3 separate regions of the Homo sapiens genome follow, and all the other regions are linked to region 1. Evidence: fine-mapped expression QTL. A gene starts in region 1. Each other region holds a variant in brackets. All regions are shown on one strand. Distances are between the middles of the regions.

Region 1 (7,917 bases):
TAAGACCAAAAATAACTTTTTAAAAAATTTTATTGAGGATCCCTTAAAAATTAGCAAAGGACAAAAACCTTAAGAAAAACAACATTATTAAGGCCACAAATGGCCAGGCGTGGTGGCTCACGCCTGTAATCCCAGCACTTTGGGAGGCCAAGGCCAAGGCAGGTGGATTACCTGAGGTCAGGAGTTCAAGACCAGCCTGGCCAACATGGCGAAACCCTGTCTCTACTAAAAATATAAAAATTAGCCGGGTATGGTGACGTGTGCCTGTAATCCCAGCTACCAGGGAGGCTGAGGCAGAAGAATCACTTGAACCCAGGAAGCAGAAGTTGCAGTGAGCCAAGATTGCACCACTGCATTCCAGCCTGGGCGACAGAGTGAGACTCCATCTCAAAAACAAAACAAAACAAGACAAGCCCACAAGTAATGATTCTGGAATGTGAAGCAGGTTCTCTCCGGATAGCATCAACTTATTAGAGCTGCCAAAAAAATATTTTTTTTAAACCTTCAGAGCACTTTCTTTTCTGTCTTTCCTTCTCTTTTAGCACTTCTATTGCATTGTAGTCATGCTTATACTTGTCTTAAGCCCAAAACGAATGACTAATTCCTTGGGAAAAGGGAATGTGTTTAATTCTATTTTCCTGTGTCTAACACATAACCTTGTTCCATAAACATCTGTTGAACAAATAATGACATTAACACGTGCTCTTTTTAAGATATAAACTCCTTGTAGCTGTGAATCGGTATACTACACAATCCGTGCAACCATCGAGCGCCTGTGGGGGCCCGGCGCGGTGGCTCATGCCTGTAATCCCAGCACTTTGGGAGGCCGAAGTGAGCGAACACTTGAGGTCAGTTCAAGACCAGCCTGCCCAACATGGTGAAATCCTGTCTCTACTAAAAATACAAAAATTAGCCGGGCGTAGTGGCATACGCCTATAATCCCAGCTACTTGGGAGGCTGAGGCAGGAGAATCGCTTGAACCCGGGAGGCAGACGCTCCAGTGAGCCAAGATCGCACCATCGCACTCCAGCCTGGGCGACAGAGCGAGACTCCGTCATTAAAAATTTAAAAATTTTAAGGCCGGGCAGGGTAGCTCACGCACGTAATCCCAACACTTTGGGACGCCAAGGCGGGCGGATCGCGAGGTCAGGAGATCGAGACCATCCTCGCTAACACGGTGAAACCCCGTCTCTACGAAAAGTACAAAAAATTAGCCAGGCAGTGGCGGGCACTTGTAGTCCCAGCTACTCGGGAAGCTGAGGCAGGAGAATGGCGTGAACCCGGAAGGCGGAGCTTGTAGTGAGCCCAGATCGCGCCACTGCACTCCAGCCTGCGCGACAGAGCGAGACTCCGTCTCAAAAAAAAACAAAAATTAAAATTTTTAAAACCTTAAGGCTCCAGCGAGCCGAGATCGAGATCGCACCATTGCACTCCAGCCTGGGCGACAGAGAGAGACTCCGTCAATAAAAATTTAAAAATTTTAAAAGTTTAAGAATTTTTATAACTGCTCATTTTCAAAGCCCACTTGAGGCAGAGACTTAGCAAATTTTACATTTTGAGAGAACTGTGCTTTTTCTTTGCCCAACACGTTGTTGTAACCCAAGAACCTCAAGCTCCCCAAAGATATTCAACAAGAGGCTCACAGGATCTCTTCAGGTATGCGACATCTGAACTGTTGTTCAGTTGAAGGCACCGGGGGAGAGAAGGAAACTGAGTAGGGAAAAAAAACTTTGTGGAAGGTAAATAATGTCTGACACTTCCATCGCACTAGGTATTTTCACACGCTTGACATCTCACCCAATCCTCAAAACAAACAAAAAACCTATGAATTATGTATCAGTACTTTTCCACCACAACGTTGAGAAAACACACGGAGGCTCAGAGGTTACAGAGATGTGCCCCCGATCAAAGAGTCAGTGTCAGAACTAACTGTGGAAACTCGGCTTCCCTGCTGTCAGTCCCAGCAGGAAAGTGAAGCTTCCAGGCAGACGAAAGGACGAACCGACACAGCAGCCCCTGAGCCCCGCCGGAGGGCTAACCCCAGAGGCCCTGAAGTCTCGCCGCCCGGCCAGGGCCTCCTGGCGCGGGGGCCTCACTCCGATGTCCCTGAGCTCCCGGGCCGGCGGGCACCTACGTGCTTGGAGGTGAGGGCTGTGATGCCGCGGACAAGGCTGCCCAGCCTCGAGGAGAAGGACGCCTTGGCGGCCGCGGGCCCACCACCGGGCTGGTTCTGCAGAAAGAGTCCCGGCAGCGCCGTCAGCGTCTTCTCCACTATGTCGCTCATCGCCGCCGCCGCCCGCGATGCCGCCGCCGCCCGCGATCCCGTAGCCGCCCGGCTTCATGCCCGGCCGCCGCTGCCGGCCCGGCCTCCGTAGGCACTTCCTGTTTTTTGAATAAGAAATCTTTATTGGCGTCCCACCTGAACAAGTTCAGCGTCGTTCTCGCGAGAGGCCACCAGAGGGCGCAAGAGACCGCGGGGGTGGAAAAGGCCGCTCGCTCGAGATTGCGCGCGTAAGTAGACCTCCTTTCTCGCGACGGGGTAGCGGTTCCGGAATCCCCCAGAACCGTGAGTCCTCCTGAGGAAGCCGTCGGGGGCCTGGCCCTGTTAGGCACTGTCTCCCAGAGTCCCCCTTTCCCACTAGCCGCCTCCGCGTAGCCCGAGACCGCGTCAGGAGTTGCGTCTTCCTGGCTGCGCCTTTTTCGGGACGTCCCCGCGCCGTCCGCCGCCTCTCACTGTCCCCGGAGCGCGCGCCACCCGCCCGCTTCCCACAGGCGGTTTCACGCGGGTCCCCGGCGCCGCGCGCGGCTCCGGCCCTGGCGACTCTTGGGACACCCGAGTAGTTGCGTGATAGCGGGGCTGTCCTGAGGATTCGGCGTGCCAGGTTGAGAGCCCGTCGCGTGCCGGGGACTCGCGGCCACTGTCGCTTCCCGTCCGCCCCTCTTCTCCTGGGATTTGGGGAGGTGGGCGGGAAAGAGAACTGGTCGGCGGCCACCCTTGCCGACTCCTCCTCAGCAGGTCGCAGTTGAAAGGTCATCCTTCTAGAGCCCACTCCCCTGGCCCGGCGGGCAAGGATAGGTCTCCAAGTCCCACCCTCTCACAGCGCTCGGTTCTGTTCCACTTTAGAACAGGTCGCAGTTGCCACTACGTAAACAGCTCCCCATAGAGAGAGTATTTTATTCATTCCGATTGCTCCGTCTTTTATCTAGAACAGAGTCTGGTACAATGGCTCTCGAAATGTGGTCTGGTGACCTCAGGGTCGCTGAGACCCTTCTAGGGAATTCACAAAGTCAAAACAACATTGATAACGTTTCTTACGTGTTATTTGCCGTTTTTACCCTCATTCTGTTGGAAATGTACAGAGTTTTCAAGCGGCTAGATGACGATTGACTAGCTGGTAAAATGTATCCTGGAGTATCCTTGTGTTTTCTAGAATTTTCTAAGGTAGTAGGTTTAGGGCATAAATACGTGCGTTTTCAGAGATTAATGCAATTTGCTCTCAGTACTCCTAGTGTGTTTCTAGGAGGTAGGTTAGGTAGGTGGTGATAGCCTCCCTTCAAGGGGAACAAACTTGCTAAATAAATAGAACAAACCAGCCCATAGTGTACAAACCACATCCGAGGCTCCTGGTTAGAAAATTTTGCAGCAAAGAGGTACGAGAGCAGAAGGGAAAATCCCCAAACTCTCACAAGCGCAGAAACCCATGATCAGTGTCGTTGGGCTGAATTATACTCATTATAATAGTAAAAAAAAAAAAAAAAAAAAAACACCACTCCTGGGTGAAGATTTAAGATACTAATAAGACATGCAGTGTATGTACTAGCATATACAACCACAGCGCACATGGCGACAGAAAACCAGAGAACGTGCTTAATAGCAGCACCCGTTCTCCCCGCTTCATGAATGATCCTGTGAGACTCCTACAAAGGGAGTTTCCCCAGTGTCAGTGCATGCTGTCTCACCTTTGAGCAGCCCGCTCTGATCAGCTGTGAGGGTGTACTTTCGCTTTGCAATAAACTCTTTTGCTTGCTTTTACTTTGGACTTCAAAATTATTTTGCACCGCGAAGTCCAGAACCTCAACCGGCCCACCAGCTACAGCTACACTTACAAGCTATCTTCGGTTATACCTGCTCTAATCTCTGTAACCTCCTTGTCACCTAATAAATGAGTTTTTTTGAAATCCTGAAGTTGTTTTAATACCTATATGGGAACATAAGAAAAAAGTTCAATTTGTTGGCTTGTCTCGCAAGAATATTTTTTAATATATTGAGAACATTTTAAAATATTTAAACTTTATCTAAAAGGGATACTCATTTATTCATTTAATTTTTTTTTTTTCAGAGTCTCGCTCTATCACCCAGACTGGAATGCAGTGGCACAATCTGGGTTCACTGCAGCCTCCTCCCCCTGGGTTCAAGCAATTCTCCTGCCTCAGCCTCCCGAGTAGCTGGGATTACAGGCGCCCGCCACCATGCCCGGCTAATTTTTGTATTTTTAGTAAACACAGAGTTTCACCATTTTGGCCAGGCTGGTCTCGAACTCCTGACCTCAGGTGATCCGCCCACCTCAGCCTCCCAAAGTGCTGGGATTACAAGCGCGAGCCACTGCGCCCAGCCAGAAAGGGATACTCTTTTAGAATTTAATTTTGTTATTTTATTATTATTTTTTGAGATGGTGTCTCGCTCTGTTGCCCAGGATGGAGTGCAGTGGTGTGATCTCGGCCCACTGCAACCTCCGCCTCCCAGGTTCAAGCAGTTCTCCTGCCTCAGCCTCCCGAGTAGCTGGGATTACAGGTGCGTGCCACCACACCCGGCTAATTTTTTGTATTTTTAGTAGAGATGTGGTTTCACCACGTTGGCCAGGATGGCCTCGGTCTCCTGACCTCATGATCTGCCCGCCTCAGCCACTCAAAGTGCTGGGATTACAGGTGTGAGCCACCACGCCCTGCCTAGAATTTAATATTTTGTCGTCCGGGCGCGGTGGTTTATGCCTATATTCTAGCACTTTGGGAGGCCAAGGCGGGCAGATTGTCTGAGCTCAGGAGTTCCAGACCAACCTGGCCAACATGGTGAAACCCCGTCTCTACTAAAAATACAAAATATTCGGACAGGCACGGTGGCTCCCACCTGTAATCACAGCACTTTGGGAGGCCAAGGTGCACAGACCACAAGGTCAGGATATCAAGACCAGCCTGGCCAACCTATGACTCTACTAAAAAAATACAGAAATTAGCCGGGCATGGTGGCGTGCGCCCGTAATCCCAGCTACTCGGGAGGCTGAGGCAGGAGAATTGCTGGGACCCGGGAGGCGGAGGTTGCAGTGAGCCGAGATTTCACCACTGCACTCCAGCGTGGGCGACAGAGCAAGACTCCACCTCAAAAAAAAAAAAATACAAAAAATTTAGCCGGGCATGGTGGCACACCTGTAGTCCCAACTACTTGGGAAGCTGAGGCAGGAGAATTGCTTGAACCTAGGAGGCGAAGGTTGCAGTGAGCCAAGATCGCACCACTGTACTCCAGCCTGGGTGACAGAGCAAGACTCTGTCTCCAAAAAAAAAAGGAATTTAATATTTTATCTTTAAATTAAATTTTGTTTTATGTATAGTTTTTTAATTTTAGGTTCTTCCATTGGCTTAAAAAGGGGATACTAGAAGATTCGCTTTCTAACCTTCCCGTCTGTAAAGATGCCGAAAAAGATGAAGCTGACATCAGTATCAGAATTCACTGACTCAGGGAAAGGGAGAAATCTGGTCGAAACTATAAATAACAAAGGAAAGTATGACAAAAGCTTCTTTCTTTCCCTTGGCATTAGAGATGTTAATCACTTGCCTTATTTTATGTCATTCAACAGAACATTTTCAAATACTATTATGGTGCCAATCAAGTTGAGGCATCATTTTCAGACCAGTCAGAATTTAAAAGAAAGGGAATTTAATACTTTCAACATAGAGATGATATGCTTTATAAAAGCCAAAGCTTTTGTATTACCATTTTCAAAGTAAAAATGAAAAACCTACTGAAGCATCTTACACATGAAATTATTATATTTCATTGATAGGAGAAGGACATGCAATAGCTAAAAGACTAATGAATGCCTGCTAGCTGATAATCAGTAAAAGAACTCATGGGAGTGCTACTTTCCAAAGATGCAATAACTCACCAAATTAGACATTTAGTTGCAGGCCAGGCGAGGTGGCTCATGCCTGTAATCCCTGAATTTTGGGAGGCCAAGGCAGGCGGATAACTTGAGATCAGGAGTTTGAGACCAACCTGGCCAATATGGTGAAACCCTGTCTCTACTAAAAATACAAAAAAAAAAAATTAGCTGGGCATGGTGGTACATGCCTGTAATCCCAGTTATTCGGGAGGCTGAGGCTGGAGAATCACTTGAACCTGGGAGGCAGAGGTTACAGTGAGCTGAGATGGTGCCACGGCACTCCAGCCTGGACAACAGAGCAAGACTGTCTCAAAAAAAAGAAAGAAATTTAGTTGCAAATATAAAGACTGAGTTACTATGTCATCTGCAGAATTATAATTCCTTTAAAATGGACATAATTATTCATGTAGCTGGACTTGTTGCTTTGCTTATACCCATCCAGTGTCAGCACCAACTAATTCTTGAAGATCCTCTTTTACATAAATCTTGACAAGAAACACAAGTGGTGATGAAATAATGTATTGAACAACTTCTTTGAATCTCATAGTTTATCCTGGAACAATACACTCAATTTTTTTTAAGTCAGTTTCACTTAAGAATATCCTTGATGAAGCAGTAAGAATTCTTAATTTTATTAAATTTCAGTCTTTGAGTGCACTTTTTAAAAAATTTTTTTTGTGACAAAATGGGAAGTACTCATAAAGTACAACCTCATAAAGTATAAACTCTTAAATCCTGAGGCTTTTCTTTTGGCCGGGTGTGGTGGCTCAGGCCTATAATCCCAGCACTTTGGGAGGCTGAGGCGGGCAGAGCACCTGAGGTCAGGGGTTCGAAACCAGCCTGGCCAACGTGGTGAAACCCCATCTCTACTAAAAATGCAAAATTACCTGCGCGTGGTGGCACATGCCTGTAATCCCAGCTACTTGGGAGGCTGAGGCAGGAGAATCACTTGAACCCGGGAGGCGGAGGTTGCAGTGAGCTGAGATCGTGCCATTGCACTTCAACCTGGGCAACAAGAGCGAAACTCCGTCTCAAAAAAAAAAAAAAGAAAAAGAAAAAATTCTTGAGGCATAACTGAGATAAGATAGTTTCTCAAGGAAAAGCATTTGTATCATTGTTTAACTTGAAAGCTGAACCGGCCTGGCACAGTGGCTCATGCTTGTAATGCCAGCACTTTGGGAGGCCAAGGCGGGGGGATCACGAGGTCAGGAGATCAATACCATCCTAGTTAACACGGTGCAAAACCCGTCTCTACCAAAAATACAAAAAATTAGCCGGGCGTGGTGGCGGGCGCCTGTAGTCCCAGCGATTCTGGAGGCTGAGGCAGGAGAATGGCGTGAACCTGGGAGGCGGAGCTTGCAGTGAGCCTAGATCACGCCACTGCACTCCAGCCTGGGCGACAGAGTGAGACTCCGTCTCAAAAAAAGAAAAGAGAAGGCCGGGCGCGGTGGCTCACGCCTGTAATCCCAGCACTTTGGGAGGCCGAGACGGACGGATCACGAGGTCAGGAGATCGAGACCATCCTGGCTAACACGGTGAAACCCCGTCTCTACTAAAAATACAAAAATTAGCCGGGCATGGTGGCGCGCGCCTGTAGTCCCAGCTACACGGGAGGCTGAGGCAGGAGAATGGCGTGAACCCGGGAGGCGGAGCTTGCAGTGAGTCGAGATCGCGCCACTGTACTCCATCCTGGGCGACAGAGCGAAACTACGTCTCAGAAAAAAAAAAGAAAAGAGAAAGCTGAACCAACCACTTTTTTTCA
Region 2 (7,917 bases), 100 kb after region 1:
GTTCTAAAATGAACATTTTTTTTACATTGTAACACCTCTGTGATTCGGATATTTCTTACAATTGATAATACATATTCATTGCTTAACTGGCAGGTTATTTTTTTTTCATTATGCTAAACAAAATAATGGCATATCTTACAATTCATGGGACTTAACTTCAATGAAATGCAGTAATTGAGCTTTCTACTAAAAAATACTAACAGCACACAAATAATTCCCCAAAATGCATCCTCTATCATTGTACTTATCACACTAACCTGTGATCTGTCCCCCAGCCCTAAGCCCTGAAATGCGTATCATCTGGCACAAAGACATCGTTTACATTTGTTGAATAGCTGCGTGCTTAGACTTGATCCGATCTTATTCACCACTTATACTGTAAGTCTCTGAGTGTACCCAACAGGAGTCTATTCCTCTTTTTTCAGAATTCAACAGTCTTTAATTATGTCGTGTCCAGTGTTGCTCATACTTGTTTCATGCATGTGAATCTCATCTACCTGGCTATAGTGTAAGCTTATAAGGACTGTCTGAGTCTGATAAATGTTTTACCTTTCCTAAAGTGCTGGTAGCATGACATTTACAGATGCTACTTGACTTACCTTGGGGTTACCACCTGCTAAACCCATCCAAGTTGAAATACCTCGAGTTGAAAATGCATTTAATACACCTAACCTACTGAACACCACAGCTTAGCCTGGCCTACTTTAAACGTTCTCTGAACATTTACATTAGCCTGTAGTCAGGCAAAATCATCTAACACAAAGCCTATTTTATCATAAAGTGTTGACTATCTCAAGTAATTTATTGAATACTGTACATTACTTCAAAATTGTAGTGGTTTCGTACCATCATAAAGTTGAAAAATCGGAAGTCAAACCATCATAAGTAGGGGACGGTCTGTACTTAGCGATCAATTGCCTAAAAGGTTTTTTGACACTGTATTAGGAGATATGATCATATTCCTGCTACTCTGATTCCCCTGGAATCTTGGGTAGGAAAATGTTTGAATTCCTTAGGCTACTCTAAACAGTTCAAAGCCCTGAGAGTCTCTTCCTCTACAACTACTTGTTGCTAATGAAGCTTTTGCCTGTTGATTGAAAGAGTCAGACCTACAGTGAAAGCATTAACCTATAGAATAGATGGTCTCTGGCATAGCTGATACTGTCAGTGCATCACCCACAGCTTCTCTGATCCTTTTTTTATTAGCTCTGGGGCCCATCTCCCACTTTCTGTTTGGTTTCCTTTCAATCAATCCACTTCACTATTATTCCCCGAAACCCAGAATTGTCCCAAGGGAACCATAGCCATTGCCTGAGTAGTGTCTGAGTATGAAAGCAAAACTTATTTGCCTCAAAGCTAGATAAGCCTGAAGGTATGACTTATGCTCCAGAGCTCTCCACAGGATCAGGCTGAGGCCAGACATCATCTGAAATTGTACCTTTGCTTGGCTTCTTTCCCCCTTCCCTATCTTACTCCTCATTCTCTTCTTAAATTAGTGAGGCAATTAGGATCTGTACTTAATAGTGTCTGGGTTGTAGCATAAAAGTAATGAAAAAAAAAAGCTTTGTGTTCCATGATTTTAAATGTTACAGTTTAATAAGTCTTTGTTATTCCCTCAGGATGTGTATCTTTGGAACTCACAACAAGCAATATAAACCATCAACAAAACCAGACCTCAGGAGTCTTTCTGCCCTACATTTTAGAAGGACACATTCTGCCCTGAGCAGGATGATAGGAATAAAGAAACAGCACTTTGGGAGGCCGAGGCAGGCAGATCACTTGAGGTCAGCAGTTTGAGACCAGCCTGGCCAACATGGTGAAACTCCGTCTGTACTAAAAATACAAAAATTAGCCGCATGTGGCAGCGCACACCTGTAATCCCAGTCACTCGGGAGCCTGACGCACAAGAATTGCTTGAACCCAGGAGGTGGAGGCTGCAGTGAGCCGAGATTGCACCACTGCACTCCAGCCTGTGTGACAGAGTGAGATCCTGTCTCGAAAGAGAGAGAGAGGAAGGGAGGGAGGGAGGGAGGGAGGAAGGAAGGAAGGAAGGAAGGAAGGAAGGAAGGAAGGAAGGAAGGAAGAAAAGGAAGGACAACAAACAATAAGAACTGACCAAATATTTAAATATTTCTTTTTCTTTTCTTTTCTTTTTTTTTTTTTTTGAGACAGTCTTACTCTGTCACCCAGGCTGGAGTGCAGTGGTGCAATCTTGGCTCACTGCAACCTCCACCTCCCGGATTCAAGCAATTCTCCTGCCTCAGCCTCCCAAAGTAGCTGGGATTACAGGCACACGCTGCCACGCCTGGCTAATTTTTGTATTTTTAGTAGAGACGGGGTTTCACCATGTTGGTCAGGCTGGTCTTGAACTCCTGACCTTGTGATCTGCCTGCCTCAACCTCCCAAAGTGCTGGGATTACAGGTGTGAGCCACTGCACCCGGCCCTGACCAAATATTTCACAATCAATTCTAATTTATTTACAGATGACATTTATCTATTTCCACTTTTGACAGTGCTTTTCTGATGAGCATCTTAGTGGCTTTTTGGAATTAAATAATGCAAAATGAGTTCGCTAATCCCTTAGTGCTGTCCAGCATACAGTCCACATTTCAATAAAATGCTGCATGATCACTTTATAGAAATGCATCCCCTAATGGCTCCAATTCCCCTCTTACTATATCCCTTGTAATACTTTGGATTCTCAAAAACAAATCTCAGGATCTATTCTAATGAATGGAATACTTACATAACACCCTTTGGCCAGCAATTTCACAAATTTGATTTTTAAAATTTATTGGCTGGGCGTTGTGGCTCACGCCAGTAATCCTAGCACTTTGGGAGCCGAGGTGGGTGGATTACCTGAGGTTGAGAGTTCAAGACCAGCCTGGCCGACATGGTGAAACCCTGTCTCTACTATAAATACAAAAAATAAGCCGGGTGCAGTGGCTTGTGACTGTAATCCCAGCTACTCAGGAGGCTGAGAGAGCAGAATCGCTTGAACCTGGAAGGCAGAGGTTGTGGTGAGCCGAGATTGCGCCACTGCACTCCAGCCTGGACGACAGAGCAAGACTTCATCTTAAATAAATAAATAAATAAAACAAAAATAAAATGTCTTTAAAACTCTTAGATGTGGTAGATGCTGGTGGATGGTGAAAAGAGCACAAGCCTTGAAGTAAGACAGCTCTGGAAATGAATTCTAGTTCTTCTCCTTATTTTATGGCCTTAAGCAAGTTGTTTGATCTTCCTGAGCTTCAGTTTAATTTCCTTAACAAAACCGTTATGAATAAATGAATGGGCCAAGCGCGGTGGCTCACGCCTGTAATCCCAGCACTTTGGGAGGCCAAGGCGGGCGGATCACTTGAGATCAGGAATTTGAGACCAGCCTGGCCAATATGATGAAACCCTGTCTCTACTAAAAGTACAAAAAAATTAGCTGGGCGTGGTGGCGTATACCTGTAGTCCCAGCTACTCTGGAGGCTGAGGCAGGAGAATCGCTTGAACCCAGGAAGCGGAGGTTGCAGTGAGCCAAGATCATGCCAT[C/T]GCACTCCAGCCTGGGCAACAGAGTGAGACTCCATCTCAAAAAACAAACAAAAACAAAAAACAAAAATTAGGCCAGGCATGGTGGCTCATGCCTGTAATCCCAGCACTTTGGGAGGCCGAGGCAGGTGGATCATCTGAGATCAGGAGTTCAAGACCAACCTGGCCAACATGGTGAAACTCCATCTCTGCTAAAATAAATACAAAAATTAGCCAGGGGTGGTGGCAGGCACCTGTAATCCCAGCTACTCAGGAGGCTGAGGCGGGAGAATTGCTTGAACTCAGGAGGCAGAGGTTGCAGTGAGCCGAGATCGCACCATTGTGCTCCAGCCTGGGCAACAAGAGCAAAACTTTGTCTCAAAAAAAAAAATTAGCCAGGTGTAGTGGTGCATGCCTGTAATCCCAGCTACTTGGGAGACTGAGGCAGGAGAATCACTTGAACGCAGGAGGCAAAGATTGCAGTGAGCCGAGATCGTGCCATTGCACTCCAGCCTAGACGACAGAGTGAGACTTCATCTCAAAAATAAAAAGAAAATGAAAAAAAGAAATGAATGAGATAATATGTATCTGTTGGGGGGGAACTGAGATGTTAATCTGTGTTTTGCTCAGGCTGCTGTAGGTATTTTTGCCTCACTCATCTGAAGAAAGTAGCCCTCTGCTTCAGGGAATGGTTAATAGCCCTAATGTCGCAGGGCCAAAATTAAAAGTTGCCTGACACTTAGAATACAACCTTCTATCTAGTCTTGGAGGTGATATTGCTGGATTATTGGAGGTGGCAGGAGGCACCAAGGGTTGGGAGAAGAAGTAGACCAATACTGGAAATAAAGTTATTTGGGGACTATCTCCCCAAGTTTAGGAGAAAGTGCTTATAGGTTTCAAGAAAATCAGGGACATGTGTGCTCCCACACAGTACTTGGGTCCAAGGCCTCTGATCGTGATAGCTGACTTGGCAGTGTGCCGCACTGCAGGGGGCAAGAAGGGTTGGTCACTAGACTTCAAGTCTTCCAATTTTAGTATACACCTCTGGCTCAACCTGTGCTCAAAAGTAGAGGAATCGCCAGGCATGGTGGCTCAAGCCTGTAATCCCAGCACTTTGGGAGGCTGAGGAGGGCAGATCACGAGGTCAGGAGATCGAGACCAGCCTGGCCAACATGGTGAAACCCTGTCTCTACTAAAGACACAAAAAATTAGCCAGGCATGGTGGTGCACACCTGTAATCCCAGCTACTTGGGAGGCTGAGGCAAGAGAATCGCTTGGACCCAGGAGGCAGAGGTTGCAGTGAGCCAAGATTGCAACACTGCGCTCCAATCTGGGCAACAGGGTGAGACTTCGTCTCAAAAAAAAAAAAAAAAAAACAAGTAGAGGAATCACCTATCCACAAGGACAGAACCACCTGTACACCTAGGAGAGATGAGCTCTTGTCCTGGGTCCCACACTTTAGAGAGCCCTACTCTGGCCCTCCATGGGATTGTGCCCCTCTTTATGGGAGAAGAGGTCCACAAGGGGCATGTCCACCTGGAGCCCACACCTCACCCTTGTAGACCGTGCTTCATCTAAATGGGACCCCAGAATTCCCAGCCCAAATGGCCTGAACTATTTCCAGGTCCTGAGCCAGTCTCTTTCCAGGATTTACATTCCTGAAGGCAGCCATGCCTCTGTGTACACGCCTTCACATGAAGGACAGTTAAAAGGTGACTTTTTGGCAGGAATGGGGATTGGTGAACAGAGCTTGGATGTGTAAGCTGGTCTACACACACATGCATGCAAGTTCCTTTATTGTCCTGAACAGAGCTGGGATGGGAAGTGAAAGAGGGGAAGTGTAAGAAGGAAAAAACGCCAAATATACAGGAAAAACAAACTATTTTTTTCTATCCTCACACCACTCTCAATACATCATGTCTGTCACCAGATGTGTGGGGTTTTGTTCCCATACTAAGCCACTCTCCAATTCTCTATGGACACCAACTGGGAATTAAACTCACTTCTGACACTATCTAGTGGGAGTCAGTACAGATTCCAAAGATTAAGGGCTCAGTCCCACAAGACTGCCCCCACATCAACTACCAATCACAAGTCCAGGTTGCCACCTGTGCTTCTGGCAGACTGTCTATAAACCAGAGGTTCTTATGACCTCCTCCTTAGGCTCAATCATTTGCTAGAATGGCTCACAGAACTCAGGGAAACACTTTACTTACATTTACCCATCTATCATAAAAGATACAACTCAGGAACAGCCAAACAAAAGAGATGCATAGGGCAAAGTATGTGGTGAGGGGCATGCAGCTTCCATACCCTCTCTGGGTATACTGCCCTCCCAGCATGTCCACACATTCCCCAGCCTGGAAGCTCTCTGAATACTGTTCTCCTGAGTCTTTATAGAGGCCTCATTATATAGGCATGACTGAATAAATCACTGGCCATTGGTATCAACTCAATGTTTAGCCTTCTCTCCTGCCTGGAGGTCAGGGGATGGGGCTGAATGTTCCAACCCTGTAATCACCTGGATGGTTCCTCTGCAACCAGCCCCCATCCTTAAGCTATCTAGGGGCCACTGAGAGATGCCTCATTAGAACAAAACACTGCAATCACCCAGGAAATGAAGCTCTGTGTAGGAAAAGGAAGAAGACCCAATATATATTTCTTATTATTAATCACAATATCATCAGAGGCCAAAGCTAGGGCCTAGGGCCAGCTTTTCTTACACCTGCACATTCAGATGCAGAAGCCCAAGAAGTCCTCAAATTCTAAATTTGAACAAGGACTTCCAGCTTGTTATGAAAATATATTTGTCAAGACAGAATGACAGAACCTATTTAAGAGGTTGTCAGCTTGATTTATAACTTTCTTTTTTTTTTTTTTTTTTGAGGCGGAGTTTTGCTCTGTCGCCCACGCTGGAGTGCAGTGGCGCAATCGCGGCTCACTGCAAGCTCCGCCTCCCGGGTTCACGCCATTCTCCTGCCTCAGCCTCCCCAGTAGCTGGGACTACAGGCGCCTGCCACCACGCCTGGCTAATTTTTTGTATTTTTAGTAGAGACGGGGTTTCACCACTTTAGCCAGGATGGTCTCGATCTCCTGACCTCGTGATCCGCCCTCCTCGGCCTCCCAAAGTGCTGGGATTACAGGTGTGAGCCACCGCACCTGGCCTGATTTATAACTTTCAAATATTTAATATAAACTTCCATTTGTATTCTCATCCTAGACCCTGAAAATATTAGAAGTGGGCCAGCCAAGAAACCACAGGACTAGGATCAACACCCAGCAGTGGTAGCCAGTGTGGTCTGAAGACCAGAGGGCTCACCTCTGAATATTCTGGAATGTGTAGGACCCTGGGAAGGTGAAGATACCCTAGGAAATGCCCCCCTCCTCAAAGTAAACATGACAAAACCCAGATTTCCCATCTCCCTTGACCAATGTGGTACAGAGCCAGATTTAACTTCATTTAGAATAAAAATGGGCAAAGACTTTTGTCTGTCCTGTTCACTGCTTTCTCCCTCCATAGCACTTAGAACAGTACCAATATACTTTTTTTCTTTCTTTCTTTCCGTTTTTTTAGAGACAGGGTCTCAGCATGTTGCCCAGTTTGGTGTTGAACTCCTGGCCTCAAGCGATCCTCCTGCCTCAGCCTCCTAAAGTTCTGGGATTACAGGCATGAGCTACCACGTCTGGCCCCAATATACTTTTTTTTTTTTTTTTTTTGAAGCAGAGTCTCGCTCTGTTGCCCAGGCTAGAGTGCAGTGGCATGATTTTGGCTCACTGCAACTTCCACCTCCTGGGGTTGAAGCAATTCTCCTGCCTCAACCTCCCAAGTAGCTGGGATTATAGGTATGCGCCACCACACTCAACTAATTTTTTTATTTTTAGTAGAAACGGAGTTTCACCATGTTGGCCAGGCTGGTCTCGAACTCCTGACCTCAAGTGATCTGCCTGCCTCGGCCTCCCAAAGTGCTGGGATTACAGGTACGAGCTACCGTGCCTGGCCCCAATATACTTTTATTGGATTAATGAATTCTTGCTCCCAGTGTGAGGGACCAAACTCTTGCCTGCCACATGTGTAAGCTCCTGTTTTTTGTTGTTGTTTGTTTTTTTGTTTTTTTGAGACAGAGTCTCACTCTGTCGCCCAGGCTGGAATGCAGTGGTGTGATCTCGGCTCACCGCAACCTCCACCTCCCAGCCTCAAGCGATTTTCCTGCCTCAGCCTCCCGAGTAGCTGGGATTACAGGCACCCGCCACCACACCCTGCTAATTTTTGTATTTTTAGTAGAGACAGTATTTTGCCATGTTGGCCAGGCTGGTCTCAAACTCCTGACCTGAGGTGATCCACCCACCCCAGCCTCCCAAAGTACTGGGATTACAGGCATGAGCCACTGCTCCCGGCCAAG
Region 3 (7,917 bases), 170 kb before region 1:
ACAGAGGAGGCTGAGGTCTAATGGAGGAGTCAAGGGCCCCAGGGAAACAGGGGAGGGAGCAGCATTTTGGAGGGAAGTCACAGATAAGGAAAGCTGGAGGCTCCAAGGTCGATGCCCCAGGTGTTACACAGTGAGAAAGAAGCAGGAGGATTCCATTTACGAAGAATGGCGGGAGTAGAATGGGGGGCGGCAGGAATCCAGCACGGGAGAGGAGGAACGCGGAGGACCTCTCCACAGGCATCAGCGCACATCTGATGCGTGCCCAGATGATGACAAAAATTCAATTTATCATACTTAAGGGGTTACTATTAAATTGAGAAAGCAAATTAGCAGAATCTTCTAGTCTGCTTTCTCATTTAACAGACCCAGAAACCAGCAGGTAAAGAGATGGGCCCATGGCACACAGTGAGTGCGCTGGGGGTGGCAGGGGCAGGGCAGGGCTGGAGGCCGGGCTCTGTCTTCCACTTCCTGCTGCTGGCTCAGTGGCAAAAGTCAGGACCAGGACTGGGCTCTCTCGTTTTCCCTGTATCCGAGGAGCTAGCTACTCCATGGATACACCCTGGCATCTTGATTGTGCAGGACAGCCATTCTCAGCATCTTTGAGTGACCACACCTGGTGATTTGGTTGGAAAACAGTGAAACCTTTTGGTGGTACTTCTTTACGTTACCATGAAGTATAAAAAATTCTATTCTTAGCCATTTGTGGCCTTAGAGTTTAATTTAGAAAGGAAGCCTGAGAGAAAGTCACATTTCTGAGAAACTTCCAGGAAGTTAAGCCTCCACAGCTAGTTGGCCCCTCCCATTACGTGATGTGAATGGGATTCCCCCTGGACTCAGAGTGGTTCCATCACAGTAGCGGTCCCAGCAGAGCTTAGGAGCCCAACCTCAGGAGATCTTGCGGGTGTCATCCCACCTCCCATCTGCTAACAACATCCCTCAACACTGTCATTCCACAGGCCAGATATTGACCATGACACCAGCAGATATTAAAAATGTGGCTTGACTTGTCTTAAATCCGTAAACAAAACCAGTTTTACTACAGAGTATATGTAAGGGAGATTATAAGCAATATATTACATGTCCCTTTCCTGCTGTTCCGCATTCAGATTGACTGAAATCCAAAAATGTCATTGTTCAGGATTCATATTTCACTAAAAAAAAAATCAAGTAGAACACTGAGGAAGCCATAATGCTGTCTGCCAAATCATCTCCCATACAGAAGTACCTTCTGGTTTCTTCTCCCTCGTGTGTTCTGACCTCTCAAGTACAGCTAACAGTTTGTCTAGTTGTTGTTAAGCTCACTAAGCTGAGGGTTTACATGTTACTACATTAATTAATTAGAGCACCTTCCAGTAGCCTCAGTCCACTGTCACAGGCCATGTTTTGTTTCTTTTTTCCAAGATAGACGAGTTTGTTCCATTTTATTGTTTTGCACATTTTAGGTTCTGCATCCATCCTCCAAAAATTACAGCATTCCAAAGACTGACATTTTTATTGCATTAGACTGTTTACTAATTTCACATATTACGGTGTTGGCATGCTCCCATGGCTCTGAATGTGGCATCCTACTGGTGTCCTTGTTAGCAGTCTGGTGTTCTGAGCCTGAGTTCTTGGGTGCCTGCCGTGGTAGAGAAAGTTTGGGAGCTGCCAGCAGAGAGAGAGAGGATTGCCCAGAGAGACAGAACGTGGACTGTGCTATTCCAAGCCCGACAGCTCCTGAGTATATTAAAATAGCTCATGAGTGTGAAGGGGCGTAAATGGGGAGGCTCCAGGGGTGGCAGGAAGGAGGGGTGCTTCTGCCATGGAGAAAGGGTTTACTGCTGGAACTGAACACTGAGAGCATGGTGGGCAATCCCTCTGGCCCCCAGGTGATGCTGCTGTTGTTGGGTCAAAGACAGGCAGAACCCAAGTGGGCCAAGCAGATAGCTCCGTATGAAAGGCAAAGGGTGGACCTTGTGCTTAGTTCAGAAGGCATTTGAGTACATTCAGTTCCACCTGCACATTGTGAATATGCACCTCCTTCCAGGTGTGGGTCCTGAACTGATGGAATCTGAGCCTCAAAGAACAAGAACAAACACGCTAAAATCATTCATCAGTCATTCATTTACTGAGACATATATACAAGACATATACTGAGTAACTTCTGCATAGTAGGCAGTTCTGCTTATGGGGATTCACAGGTCTTCTGAGCATCAATCCCTAAGAACTCAGCACCGGATGCGGAAAGTAGATGGCCAGTCGCAGTGCAGCACAGGAACAGGGCTACCACTGAGCTAGGTGTGAGGGCCAGCCTCCCTGACAAGAGGGATATAAGGGTTGGCCAGGGGCTCATGGTGGGAGGGGACCTTCAGCGGCAACAAACAACCTGTCAGCTGTGCCTCTTCCACCTGGGCGAGGGTCCACTGGATTCAGCTATGGCACGAGAGTCAGGGCATGGCTGGCAGCCAGGGCAGCACCCTTAGGGAGAGCTGGCTTGACTTCTGGTACTGTTTGGCTGTCATCCCGACTATTTCAGCCAGTTGGGTTAGGGCAAAACCATTTTTGTGAAGAGTTGAGCCTCCTTTTGGCTTTGAATTGGGCAAGCAGGCCTCTGGTAGGAGGGATGGGATCCGGTGGGCAGAGCCAGAGGTCTGTTCATGGAGCTCCTCTTCAGTATCTCCTGTTACTTTGTTACTTAGGAAGGAGCATTAGAAGGGAATCCTACCATGTGCCAAAAGGCACCCTTTTCCCCAACAGGCAGCCTGCTGCTAGGTTGTTACTTTCTGCAGATACTTCATAGCAAAAACTGGAAACAGTTTGAAACCTACCAAGAGGGGACCAGTAGAGAAAATGGTGGCATGTGCTATTGTCAAAAAACAATGATGTAGTACATTTGTTGTCATGGAAAGATATCCTCAGAATGTCGAGTGAAATGCAGGCTAGTTTTACTAAAACTGTCAAAAAACAGTTAATCCCCACCTTACATAAACACTCTCAGACACAGAAAAAGAAGGAAAGCTACTCAATCCGTTTTATGGGACTAGTCTTCTCTGACATCAAAATTTGACAAAGATAGTACTATGAAAAAGTTATAGACCAATCTCACTTTTGAGTATAGTTGCAAAATGCAATATTTACTAGTAGAATTCACCAGTATAGTAAATACATATGCATCATTGACCAAGTAGGGCTTATCCTGGGAATATAATGATGATTTAAATCAAAAAGTCTTTGAATAATTGGTTAAATTTACATATTATAAGATAAATTATATGATCATCTCAGTGGATACAAAGAAATTGTTTGCTAAAATTGGATACATTTCTACTTAAAAGCAAACAATGCCTTAGCAAAATAGGAATAAAAGGAAGATAACTTGATAAGGGGTATCCATCAAAACCCACAGCAAACATTGCATACTCAGGGAAATTTTAGAGACAATCCTGTTAAAGTTAGGAACAAGACCAGGATGCCATGTAATGCTATTCAACACTGTGCTGGATGTTTTCTACCGGTGTTATAAAGCAGGAAAAAGAAATAGGGGGTCAAAGAAAACAATCATTTTGTGTAGGCAATGTTGTCTACATTAAAAAGTCCAAGAGATGCTATATAAATTAGAACTCATAACAGAGCTCGGCAAAATGTCTCAATTGGAGATAAGTATACAGGGATCAGTTGGGTTCCTATGCATCATTAATAACCATTTAGAAACTGTAATAGAAAAAAATTAACAGCAGCAACCAAAACTGTAAGGTAGCTAGAAGTAAATCTAATGAAAGATATGCAAGAGATTTATGGAGATGACTGTAAACATAATTGAAGGACACAGAAGAAGATATGACTAAATGGAGAGACATGTCATGTTAATGGAGAGGAAGATTCAGTATCATAAAGATACCAGTTTAGGCTGGGCGTGGTGGCTCACGCCTATAGTCCCAGCACTTTGGGAGGCCAAGGCA[G/A]GCAGATCACCTGAGGTCGGGAGTTTGAGACCAGCCTGACCAACATGGAGGAACCCCATCTCTACTAAAAATACAAAATTAGCCAGGCATGGTGGCGCATGCCTGTAATCCCAGCTACTCAGGAGGCTGAGGCAGAAGAATCGCTTGAAACCGGGAGGTGGAGGTTGCAGTGAGCCGAGATTGCACCATTGCACTCCAGCCTGGGCAACAAGAGCAAAACTCTGTCTCAAAAAAAAAAAAAAAAAAAAAAAGGATCCCAGTTTACTTCAGATCAACATAGAGTGCTCATGGCATTTGATCATATTATCCTAAAATTCCTATGGAAGAATAAAGGCAAGAATAATCAAGACAGTTTCTAAGCAGAATAAAGTGAGGGTGAGGAGGGGCACTTCCCTTTGGACTATCATGACTTACGAGTTATATTAAGAAAACTTGGTTTTTGTACTGAAATAGACCAGAGTCTAATAAACAGAGTAAAAAACTCAAAAACAGATCTATGCAATATAGAAACCTGATATGAAAAGAAGGGGCCTACCAGATAGGTAGCAGAAGTATGAACTATTCAATAAATAGAATAAATCGTGGGGAGAAAAAGATTCCCAACCTCATGCAATATGTACAGATAATTTTCAGATTGATTAAAGACCTAAATGTGAAAAACAAAACCTTTAAACCTCTGGAAAATATATGGTTATCTTTTATCACCTCATGGCAAGAGAAGAATTTTTAAAATGAGATACAGAAACCACCAACCATCAAGGAAAAGATTGATAAATTAGACTATTAAAATTTTAGATTTCTGGCCAGGCGCGGTGGCTTATGCCTATAATCTCAGCACTTTGGGAGGCTAAGAGGAGGCAGATCACTTGAGATCAGGAGTTCGAGATCAGCCTGACCAACATAGAGAAACCCCATCTGTACTAAAAATACAAAATTAGCCGGGCATGGTGGTGCATGCCTGTAATCCCAGTTACTCGGGAGGCTGCAGCAAGAGAATTGCTTGAAACCAGGAGGCAGAGGTTGCGGTGAGCCGAGATCGTGCCATTGCACTCCAGCCTGGGCAACAAGAGTGAAACTCCATCTAAAAAAAAAATAGCTTTCTGTATGATTAAAGACACCATAATAAAGTTAAAATGTAATGCTACAGACTGGGAAGAGATAGTTGCCAGCCCTGTGATCAGCAGAGGCTTAGAATCATAAGCAAAATATACAAAAAAGAAAAATATATATAATTCAACTGAAAAAATGAGTAAATTATATGAACAAGCAATTTGCAGAAGAGAAAAACCTTAATGCCCAATAAACACAAATACATTGACTCTCACCAGCAATCAGGAACATGCATATTAAAACAAGGTACCATTTTATACCTATCAGATTGGCAAAAATTAAAAAGTTGGATGATTTGAAGTGTTGATGAGGAAGTGCAACCACAGGAACTCAAGACACTGCTGCTGGGAGTGAAAATGAGTGCAGTCTCTCTGGAGAGCCATTGGCAGCCCTTGCTGCTGCAGGCCTTGGCAATCAAGTTATAGGTATAGACCCCAGGAGACTGTTGTGTGTGTGCGCACAAGGAGACACTTTTTCCTTGCAGAAAATGGAAAGAACTTAAATGTCCATCAGGAGGAAACTTGAAGATATATATTTATATAAGCAACTAAATGATTAAACAAGATAAATCTTGAAAACAGGATGTGGAATAAAGAGTTGTAGAAGGATCTGTGTAGTATGACACCTTCTGTGTGAAATTTAAACATGATGTTGATGCATGCATACTTATGAAATGAGACAAAAGCATAAAAACGTGGATAGATGAAAAAAAAATACAACTTCTGTAGTGCAGTTTGATCTGGGAGCTAGAAGCAGAAGAGAGGGAGTTGAAAGCAAAGAGGGCTTTACCTCTCCCTGTCTTTGAGGGTAAACTATTAAGAATTTTTCCACCTGAGTGGTGACCACACAGTGTTTGTTAAATTATGTTCTATTTTGGCCATATGTTTGAAATGCTTAATATTTAAAATATTAACAATTGTTCCATCTGGGTGGTGGCTACACAGTATTTGTTAAATTATCTTCTATTTTGTTTATGTTTATGTATATGTTTTTAGGCATTACATATTTTTATCTATTTATATGTTTGAAACACTTGGTGGTTTTTAGAAAATTAATTCTTTTTTTTTTTTTTTTTTTTTTTGAGACGGAGTCTCGCTCTGTCGCCCAGGCTGGAGTGCAGTGGCGGGATCTCGGCTCACTGCAAGCTCCACCTCCCGGGTTCACGCCATTCTCCTGCCTCAGCCTCCCAAGTAGCTGGGACTACAGGCGCCCGCCACTACGCCCGGCTAATTTTTTTTTTTGTATTTTTAGTAGAGACGGGGTTTCACCGTTTTAGCCGGGATGGTCTCGATCTCCTGACCTCGTGATCCGCCCGCCTTGGCCTCCCAAAGTGCTGGGATTACAGGCGTGAGCCACCGCGCCCGGCCAGAAAATTAATTCTTGTGAGGGAAAAATACTGCTCAATCTCCATCTTAAAGTGGGCAATAATTCAGAAAACATTTAAACTAATTGATGTTTGTCACCCCATGCATCGCAGCTCAGTGTGGCAGGCTGAAGCACTGAACTCAGGCAGACTCTGGGGCAGAGTCTGCCCAATCCAGCTCTGCCACTTTCTAAATGGTGGATTCAGACAAGCTACTTAATCTCTCTTTGCCTTGGTTTCCTTGATGTGAAATGCTGCATCCATTGCTATCGCTGACATTAGTGCCTACTTGATACAGTTGTTGCAAGAATATGATGGCTTAACTGTGCATAAAGCACATGGAAGAGCAAGCACTTTATTATTATTATGCCTGAATATAATCTACCATTCAGAAAGACACTAGTTATTTGTTAGATGCAAGGGATTTGGGGGAATGAATAAGCTTCATTTAAAGAAATCATGTAAGTAGATGTTGTTTTTAGTGATGGTTACTTTTCTGCAGTGAGCCAAAAATATCTCTCAGATCTCCAAAATTAACCTGTTGATTTGGAGATGATTCACCCCCCAGTGGCTTCACAAGTATCTGCTTCAGTGAGCTCTGGTAAGTAAAATTATCAAACACTCATTCACTTTTCAGAGCTGGCTGTAAAATCAATATGAAAAGCAACATTAATATGTAACTGTTGAAATATACAGAATTCCCTCTAAAAATGAAAGCTACATCTATCTTCAAGTCTTGATGAGTATGTTCTATCACATAAGACTGGCCCTTTTGTATTTAAAAAAGTGATGAAATACAACTCCCCTAGGTAGGTGGAGATTCAAACTGAGGCCTTTAATGTTTCAAATAAGTGAGAAATCTCAGTCATTAGGGAGCCAAGGGGAATTTTTCGAAGGCAGATGCAGGAAGGCAAAGACTGTAGGCTTTGGTGTCTGGTGAACTTGGGCCCAACTGCAGCTTTGCTACTTACTAGCCACTTAGCTTGCAGTGAATTACTTAAATTGACTGTGCCTCAGTTTCCTCATCTATAAAATGGAACTCACAGTCCCTCTCTTGAGGAATTGTTGTGAGGATCAGATACATGGTATATACCACCTCATGTGCGTAATCTGTACTCAGCAGTTGTCCTTATCTCTGACATTATCATTAATTGAGTTACAGATTGCTCAGTGCTGATGGGTGATGGATTGGAGGCTCTAAAACAAGCTGAGATAATGAGCTAAAAGGTTTTACAGCTCCTCCTGCCAATCTCTCTTCTCTTCAAGACCCAGGAATTGGGGTAGGGGAAAGGTCTTCATCTTGAAGACAATTAAATGCTGCTTTTCAAGTGTAATTATTCAATGTAAGGCATTGAAGCAATCTGAAATTGCATCCTGTTTTGACTGCCATTGCTTTTGTATGTTCTTATTCAGCACCCTTAAAATGTCCAAAAGAGTTGGGAAATTTTGTCATGTTTGGTGCCCCCAAAACACACAAATCCCCATTCCTAGCCTGTGGATGAATGA

Direction of the effects. Alleles are on the strand shown, and positions count from the first base shown. SD is a standard deviation of normalised expression in the study named. Not every link is listed here.
For the expression in monocytes after R848 of the gene that starts at base 2,380 in region 1, G is the high allele of the variant in region 3 and A is the other (large effect, 1.0 SD a copy in Quach 2016).

Evidence for each region. PIP is the estimated chance that this variant, and not a neighbour inherited with it, causes the effect.
Region 2: its variant is the best candidate, but not a certain one, in a credible set for the expression of AP4E1 in whole blood (TOPMed, PIP 0.59).
Region 3: its variant is the best candidate, but not a certain one, in a credible set for the expression of AP4E1 in monocytes after R848 (Quach 2016, PIP 0.57).

Annotation. Positions count from the first base shown.
Region 1 is chr15:50,903,146-50,911,062 of GRCh38, reverse strand. It overlaps AP4E1 (adaptor related protein complex 4 subunit epsilon 1), which reads right to left and starts at 2,380. Exons shown (of 21, transcript NM_007347.5): 1 at 2,135-2,380. The coding sequence starts at 2,284. RefSeq lists enhancers at 1,304-2,045, 2,092-2,261, 2,282-2,571, 2,046-2,787.
Region 2 is chr15:50,801,403-50,809,319 of GRCh38, reverse strand. No RefSeq gene overlaps it. Among named protein-coding and RNA genes, the nearest start is that of SPPL2A, 40 kb to the right of the region's middle. The variant C/T (reference allele first, on the strand shown) is at 3,542.
Region 3 is chr15:51,069,263-51,077,179 of GRCh38, reverse strand. All of the region lies in intron 1 of TNFAIP8L3 (TNF alpha induced protein 8 like 3), which reads left to right. The region is part of intron 1 of MIR4713HG (MIR4713 host gene); the gene reads right to left. Among named protein-coding and RNA genes, the nearest start is that of TNFAIP8L3, 22 kb to the left of the region's middle. RefSeq lists an enhancer at 1-409. The variant G/A (reference allele first, on the strand shown) is at 3,939.